Homo sapiens: one gene and its partner. The protein of the gene in region 2 interacts with the protein of the main gene of each other region in a pairwise test. Each region holds a gene or a part of one and is shown on either strand. Other genes may lie near its edges.

Region 1 (3,600 bases), on a different chromosome or scaffold from region 2:
TAGGTACAGCCTGGTCTAAGGGACAAGCTGAAGCTCAGAGAGGCCAAGCAGCCGGCCCCATGTCACACAGCCAATGCCAGGGCTGGGGCCAGGGTTCTAGCTGCTACTCTGAGCAAATGCACATTTTCTGAAATGCTTTCTGGCAGCTTCTATGGCTGTATCAATCAAGCCCCCGCACCTGGGATGCTGGGCGGGTCTAGCCTATGGGAGGTGAGTGAGGCTGAGATATTTACCCCCCGACCTTGGCTTTCCTCCTTCCCTCCCTGGCTCCTCTGCAAGAGGCCCCAGCTGTTGTCCTGGGACCTTCTGCTTTGACACTTTTTTTTTTGTTTTTTTTTGAGATGGAGTCTCGTTCTGTCTCCCAGGCTGGAGTGTAGTGGCATGATCTCGGCTCACTGCAACCTCTGCCTTCAGGTTCAAGCGATCCTCAACCTCCCGAATAGCTGAGATTACAGGCATCTGCCACCATACCAGGCTAATTTTTTGTATTTTTAGTAGAGACAGAGTTTCGCCATGTTGGCTAGGCTGGTCTCAAACTTCTGACCTCAGGTGATCTGCCCGCCTCAGCCTCCCAAACTGCTGGGATTACAGGCATAAGCCACCTCGCCTGGCCCTGACATTTCAACTATTTTTGGGCTCCAGAAACAGGCCGTGCCTGAGGTGGTCGCAACTCGAGGCCGTCACCAGCTGCAGGCACTTCACCACCCTGTCTGATGTTGCCCAAACTCTGCCCTCATACCCAAAGGCAGCTCCTTCGTCAAGTCTCCCTGGGTCCCCATGGAGCGGACCACGCTTCCTGGAGGACGGGGACACTGGAAACTGCTGTCTTCTTCCACCAGCTCAGACTTGGTCTCTGGAACCTACTGCGCCACTCCCTGCCTCACTTCCCATGAACCAGAAGGTGGCTCCTGCCCGCTGGCCAGAAACAGAGACCTTTCACAAAGACCAGGCTCTCCTCCTCTCCACGGATGAAGACAGCTTTCCCAGCTGGGGTGCAGCCCTGCACTGGCAAATTTGGCAGCACAGCCCTCTCAGGGTCACTGGGGAGGTGAGCCCAGTGCAATGACTCACAAATGATGGGGTGGCCTCTCGGCCTGGCCTGGGAGGTCCATGAGTCCTGGGTGGACAGTGATATGCCCTTTTGCTGTGGTTTTATAGATGGGAAAAGTTCTCTGGCTGTGCCTCAGACCTGAAGCCCCACATGGTTAGTTATAGAAAGCTGCAGGTGCCGGCAGCCAGGAAGGCTTTGGGGGTGAGGTCAGCTCTTTGGGGAGCAGAAGATGAAGATGCTGGCTTTGGGAGGGGAGGAGGGGTTGGCCTACTTCTCACTGCTCTATGGTTCAAGGTCTGAACACAGGTCGTTTGTACCAGGTCACACCCTGCTCCGATATAGCTCAAAGTACAACTGACGCCTGCTCACCACACCCTCCAACTACAAGGGTCACACCTGTGCTAGACCCTTCCTTCTCTAGAAAGCACCCAACACTCATGGTGACCACAAGCTTGGATATCCTTTCTCTTATAACCATGACACTGGCCAGATCCAACAGCCTAGCTGGAGGGATGGGCTCCGAGGGGCTCCGGGGTGGGGCCAGGCCAGTGTGTGGTCCCTGGGGCCGGCTGCTTGCATCTCAGTCCCTGCTCCCACCATGTCCCTGACTAGGAGGCTGTGGGCAAGTGGCCTGTATGTGTCTCTGCACCTTGGCCTTCTCATGAGTAAACCAGAGGGCTCTGGGACAAGGACTGAAGCAGGGACAGTGGGAGGAGCCGGAGGGCCTCACCTCCTCAATGTTGCGAATCCAGTTCCGGATGTTGTCGAAGGACTTCTCGTTGGTGATGTCGTAGACCAGCATGATGCCCTGCGCGGGGAGAGAAGACACAGGTGCCTGATCGGCTGCAGGCTCTGGAAGGGAGGCCTCAGCGGCACCAGAGAACAGTGGTGGGGAGCCCAGCACCCACTGCACAGCCAGGCCCATTAGCTGCCGCCCTCCCCACCTCTGTGGAGCCCCGGAAGCCAGCCCCCTCCTCTCCATCCCTGTGGCCCTTCTTTCTGCTGGGTTCTGGCACCAGCCTTGTCCTGCCCCCCGGGCCGCTGAGGTGACCCTTCTGCCTCACAGGCCAGCCCCTGCCACGCACTCGCTGACAAGCCCGGCTGGCTCCCCTCATGGCCCACGGGGTGGTGCAGCCTGACGGTGGGAGCCGGTCCACAGGCCCACTGCCAGCAGCACTCCCCTCACGCTGACCCTCCCCTGCAATCGGCCTCCTCTTCACCCCTTGCTCACCCCACGCTCTGCCTGAGCCACCTACCAGGCACAACTGAGCCCAGGAAGTCCTGACCCGACATCCACACAACTTCCAGTGACCCCACCACAGAGGGAACCGGCTGTGTGAAGATGGAGCCGAGAGTGCCAAGGCCCTTCCAGTTCCCTAACCTAGACGTGAGCAACTGGGAGACGGCTCGTGGGTCCTGGAAGAGCTTCGGGGCAGCCCCGCCTCAGCCTGGGTCCACAGCCTCGCTACTGCTGTGGACAAGCGCAAACATGCCCATGCGATGCAAGGGGAAACTGAGGCACAGAGACGTGACCTTTAAGATTCAAGCACGGGGGGCGGGGGGGGGCTAACTCCAAAAGCACTGATGACACCTATCCTCTCAGCAATATCCCTGGGCCTTTTTCAGCCCCAGAACCCACATGTGGGGGCCACCCTCTGACGGTCTGTGTGGTTCTCGATGTCCTTGTGGAGTGCCCACAGCGGGCCAGCCTGCAGTGCCATCACAAGTCCCCCTTTGTTGCCGGGCATCCTGGGCTCCAAGGCACGTGGCCTGCTCATGGCCAGGCCTGGATTTCTTCCTTCCTCCTCGCTACCTGCTCCCCAGGCCCAGCCCTGCATCTGTGGCACCTGAGGGCACTGATGACTTCTGCTGCTGGCCAAGTTGTCTGGGGCCATCCAAGTTTGCAGAATAAGGACACGGGCCATGTGGTAATGGTGAGACAGATGTGGGTGCAAGAGTGTGGGACAAAAACGACACAGATGGGGCAAGAAAGTCACTGCAACCCCAAATCCTCCTGGGAATTCAGGGACATGAATAATGGCCTCACAGTCAGCCGCAACCATGGCGAAGAACCTCAAGGCTGCAGTGGCCCATGATGTCTGCCATGCCCCATCCACGGTGGGCACACCCTGTGACTGTGACATGGTCAGGGACAGGGGGCGTGGGGCCCTTTATCCGGGGACTGGACCCTCTGAAAGCCCAGGATTCCTGCCTTCACCACTAAGTTGGTGACATGTGCCTAAGACTCAAATTCCTGGATTATACCTATTTCAGGGAGCTGAGGGGAGAACCTGGACGTTAGTGGGGCAGTGGGTAGAGCTCTCTCTTAGAATCAAGCAGAAGCACCTGGAAAACACTGAGCCAGCCATCCTATTCCAGGTTTTCCTGGAAACACCCCTCAGGGCTCCAAGTGACTATTTTCCAGGGCCCCGTCTGGGCAAACCTCACCATGGGTCTCTAGGCATCCAATGCTTCCCAAACTTGGGATTTTGAGGCCCAAGGGTCTATGAGCATGCTGACAGAGATGAGGACACAGCTGCAATGGTGGT
Region 2 (4,113 bases):
GGAGGCTGAGGTGCGAGGAATGTCTGAGCCCAAATATTCAAGATCAGCCTGGGCAACATGGGAAACCCATTTCTACAAAAAATACAAAAATTAGCCAGGCATGGCGGCATGATCCTGTAGTCCCAGCTATTCCGGAAGTTGAGATGGGAGGATCGCTTGAACCCAGGAGGCAGAGGTTGCAGTCAGCCGGGATTACACCACTGCACTCTGGCCTGGGCAACAGAGTGAGATCTCGTCTCAATCAATCAATCAAAAGATCTATAAAAATATTAAAATATGTGTTTTTTAGGCCAGGTGCGGTGGCTCACGCTTGTAATCCCAGCACTTTGGGAGGCCGAGGCAGGGGGATCACCTGAGGTCAAGAGTTTGAGACCAGCCTGGACAACATGGTGAAACCCCTTCTCTATTAAAACTACAAAAATTAGCCGGGCGTGCTGGCGCGTGCCTGTAATCCCAAACTACTAGGGAGGCTGAGGCAGGAGAATTGCTTGAACCTGGAAGGTGGGAGTTACAGTGATCTGAGATCGCACCACTGCACTCCAGCCTGGGCGACAGCACAAGACTCTGTCTCAAAAATAAATTTTTTAAAAAATGGGCCAGGCATGGTGGCTCATGCCTGTAATCCCAACACTTTGGCAGGCCAAGGTAGGCAGATAACAAGGTCAGGAGTTCAAGACCAGCCTGGCTAACATGGTGAAACCCCATCTCTACTAAAAATACAAAAAGTAGCTGGGCATGGTGGCTCATGCCTATAATCCCAGCTACTCAGAAGGCTGAGACAGAAGAACTGCTTGAATCCAGAAGGCAGAGGTTGCAGTAAGCCAAGATCGTGCCTCTGCACCCCAGCCTGGGCAACAGAGCGTGAAACTCAGTCTCAAAAATAAATAAAATTAAAAAATAAAATATCAAGTGTGGGCCAAGTGTGGTGGCTCACGCCTGTAATCCCAGCACTTTGGGAGGTTGAGGCAGATGAATCACTTGAGGTCAGGAGTTTTACACCACCCTGGCCAACATGGTGAAACCCTGTCTCTACTGAAAATACAAAAATTAGCCGGGTGTAGTGGTGCACACCTGTAATCCCAGCTACTCAGGCAGCTGAGGCAGGAGAATTGCTTGAACCTGGGAGGCAGAGGTTGCAATGAGCTGGGATAGTGCCACTGCACTCCAGCCTGGGTGACAGAGTGAGACTCTGTCTCAAAAAAAAAAAAAATTATGAATGAATGAGAACACTAAAACAAGAACAATGAATGTCAATACCTATTTTCCTGCCCATGAGTCTTACGGGTCCCATGTTCATACACTTCCAAAGACAAGAAGTGTCAAAAGTCTCCATTTAAACAAAAATCATTTTGTTACTGCTTTAAGTGCTGATTCCATGGGAACAAGTTAGAAAATTCTCAGTAGTGTCTCTCACCTCTGCATTCAGTCATCCTATTGTTTTGTTTTTTGGTAAGAAACAGGGTCTTGCCCTGTTGTCAAGGCTGGAGTGCCGTGGCCATGATAACTCACTGCAGTCTCAAACTCCTGGGCTTAAGTGATCCTCCTGCCTTAGCCTCCTGAGTAGCTAGGACTACAGGCTCACACCATCACACCCAACTAATTTTTTTTATGGTTTTTGGGGAAGAGGGGTCTCACTACGTTGCCCAGGCTTGAACTCATCCTTTTTTTTTTTTTTTTAAAGCAAAAGGCCACAAAAAAGCAGACACAAAATCACATAATCCATTCCCAGTAAAGATATTCTCTCTTCAGTCCATTCTCTGCATGTATGAGTCTATCTCAAAAAGGAGGGAAGGAGCCAGGCGCGGTGGTTCACAGTGGCAATCCCAGCACTTTAGGAGGCCAAGGCGGGCGGATCACCTGAGGTCAGGAGTTCAAGACCAGCCTGACCAACATGCAGAAACCCCAACTCCACTAAAAATACAAAATTAGCCAGGCGTGGTGGCGCATGCCTGTAATCCCAGCTACTTGAGAGGCTGAGGCAGGAGAACTGTTTGAACCCAGGAGGCGAAGGTTGCAGTGAGCCGAGATGGCACCATTGCACTCTAGCCTGGGCAACAAGAGAAACTCCATCTCAAAAAAAAAGAAAAGAAAAGAAAAGAAAAGAAAAAGAAAAGGAAGGAAGACAATGCCTCTTCGTTTTTATGTGTAATCTCCCTCTACTGAATGATGCTAAATGAGCTCTCACTTTGAGAATAACAGTGATAACATAAAAGACCCACAGAATCACTAAGAACTAAATTCCTAAAGGTTCTTTAAACTCGTATGTCTACTTTTCAGAAGTTTCTTTTTTTTTTCTTTTTTCTTTTTTGAGAGGTAGTCTCACTCTACTGCCCAGGCTGGAGTACAGAGGCACGATCCCAGCTCACTGCAACCTCCATCTCCCGGGTTCAAGCAATTCTTCTGCATCAGCCTCCCCAGTAGCTGGGATTACAGGCACCCACCACCACACCCAGATAATTTTTGTATTTTTAGTACAGACAGGGTTTCATCATGTTGGCGAGGCTGGTCCCACACTCCTGACCTCAAGTGATCCATCTGCCTCGGCCTCCCAAAGTGCTGGGACTATAGATGTGAGCCACCACACCTGGCCCTTTTTTAAAAGTTACAGCAAATCATGCCTGTTTTAAAAGAATCAGAAGTTGCAGAAAAACCCTAACATACCCAGTTATAACCTCTCTCTCCAGATCATTTTGTATCCAGATTTTTATTTTAAAAAATCACTGGGCTGGGGCACAGTGGCTCACCCCTGTAAGTCCCAACACTTTGGCAGGATCCACAAGGCAGGAGGATCACTTGAGCCCAGGAGTTCCAGACCAGACTGGGCAACACAGTGAGACCTTGTCTCTGTAAAAAATTTAATTAGCCCAGTGTGGTAACGCATGTCTGTGGTCCTAGCTACTCAGGAGGCTGAGGCAAGAGGATCACTTGAGCCCAAGAGATTGAGGCTGCAGTGAACTGTGACTGTGCCACTACACCCCAGCCTAGGCGATTGAGACTCTGTCTCCAAAAAGAATTTAAATTTAAAAGTCACTGATTTTAAAATAAATTATTCAATAGGTTCACAGGGCTTATTCTGGATAGAGTCAACAGGATGTTCTGGCTGAAAAAGTGAAATTGAAACAGAGTAGAAAGTGAGGAGCTAGCTATGTAAAATTCTAAGGAGAGCATTCTAGAGCATGGGCAAAGGCATCAGACGGGTCTTGGTTAAAGAATGGAGAGGTGTGTCACAGGCAGCCCAAAGGAGAGAGTGATGGGCGATAAGATGACAGATTTCTTGATTAGCATCTGAAACCGGTCCAAATCTATCTAAAATTAGCCCTTCTTTAGGTTGTTTTTAAAGAATCCCTAAAACAGCAGACTAGCTCCACACTAGAAATTCAAATAAAAGCAAAGGAAAAAGTCAGAAGGTATTCAAAATATGTCCTATCAATATAAAGATTAAATTTTTGATGCCTTGCTGAGAATTCCTGCAAGCAAGAGATCATAGCACCTCACACATTCCTAAAACATTCTATCTACATACCCACCTAAGTTTCCACAGAGGTGCTCAGAATTTACTTTACTCTCTCTGGTGATGGATAATTTCCATGCTTTCAAATCACTTTTGCTGTAAATACCCTGAGGCACTTACTTTGGTATAAAAGACTCTTGGTCTCCGCATTAAAGACACAAACAGGCCGGCACGGTGGCTCATGCCTGTAATCCCAGCACTTTGGGAGGCTGAGGCGGGCAGATCACGAGGTCAGGAGATTGAGACTATCCTGGCTAAAATGGTGAAACCCCGTCTCTACCAAAAATACAAAAAAATTAGCCAGGCGTGGTGGCACGTGCTTGTAATCCCAGCTACTCAAGAGGCTGAGGCAGAATCGCTTGAACCCGGGAGGCGGAGGCTGCAGTGAGTCAAGATTGTGCCACTGCACTCCAGCCTGGGTGACAGAGCAAGACTCCGTCTCAAAAAAAAAAAAAAAAAAAAAAAAGGCGCAAACAAAGCACTCACAGAAAACTAAACACAGAATTCACTCTACATATTGGCCAAAGGGAGACAATTTCTGGATACTGAGCAACACACAATTTATGATCTTATGTGAAAACTGATGGCCGGGTGTGGTGGCT

The links.
Region 1: the proteins of SPAG9 (region 2) and RAB8A interact in binary tests that used the Homo sapiens proteins (3 or more experiments, as listed by UniProt).

What each region holds. Positions count from the first base shown.
Region 1 is NC_000019.10:16,123,729-16,127,328, reverse strand, and holds part of RAB8A (ras-related protein Rab-8A), read right to left. Parts: exon of another isoform or gene 1,860-3,600; coding exon 1,782-1,859; exon of another isoform or gene 342-1,781; intron 1-341. UniProt on the Homo sapiens protein: The small GTPases Rab are key regulators of intracellular membrane trafficking, from the formation of transport vesicles to their fusion with membranes.
Region 2 is NC_000017.11:51,113,756-51,117,868, forward strand, and holds part of SPAG9 (C-Jun-amino-terminal kinase-interacting protein 4), read right to left. Parts: intron 1-4,113. UniProt on the Homo sapiens protein: The JNK-interacting protein (JIP) group of scaffold proteins selectively mediates JNK signaling by aggregating specific components of the MAPK cascade to form a functional JNK signaling module.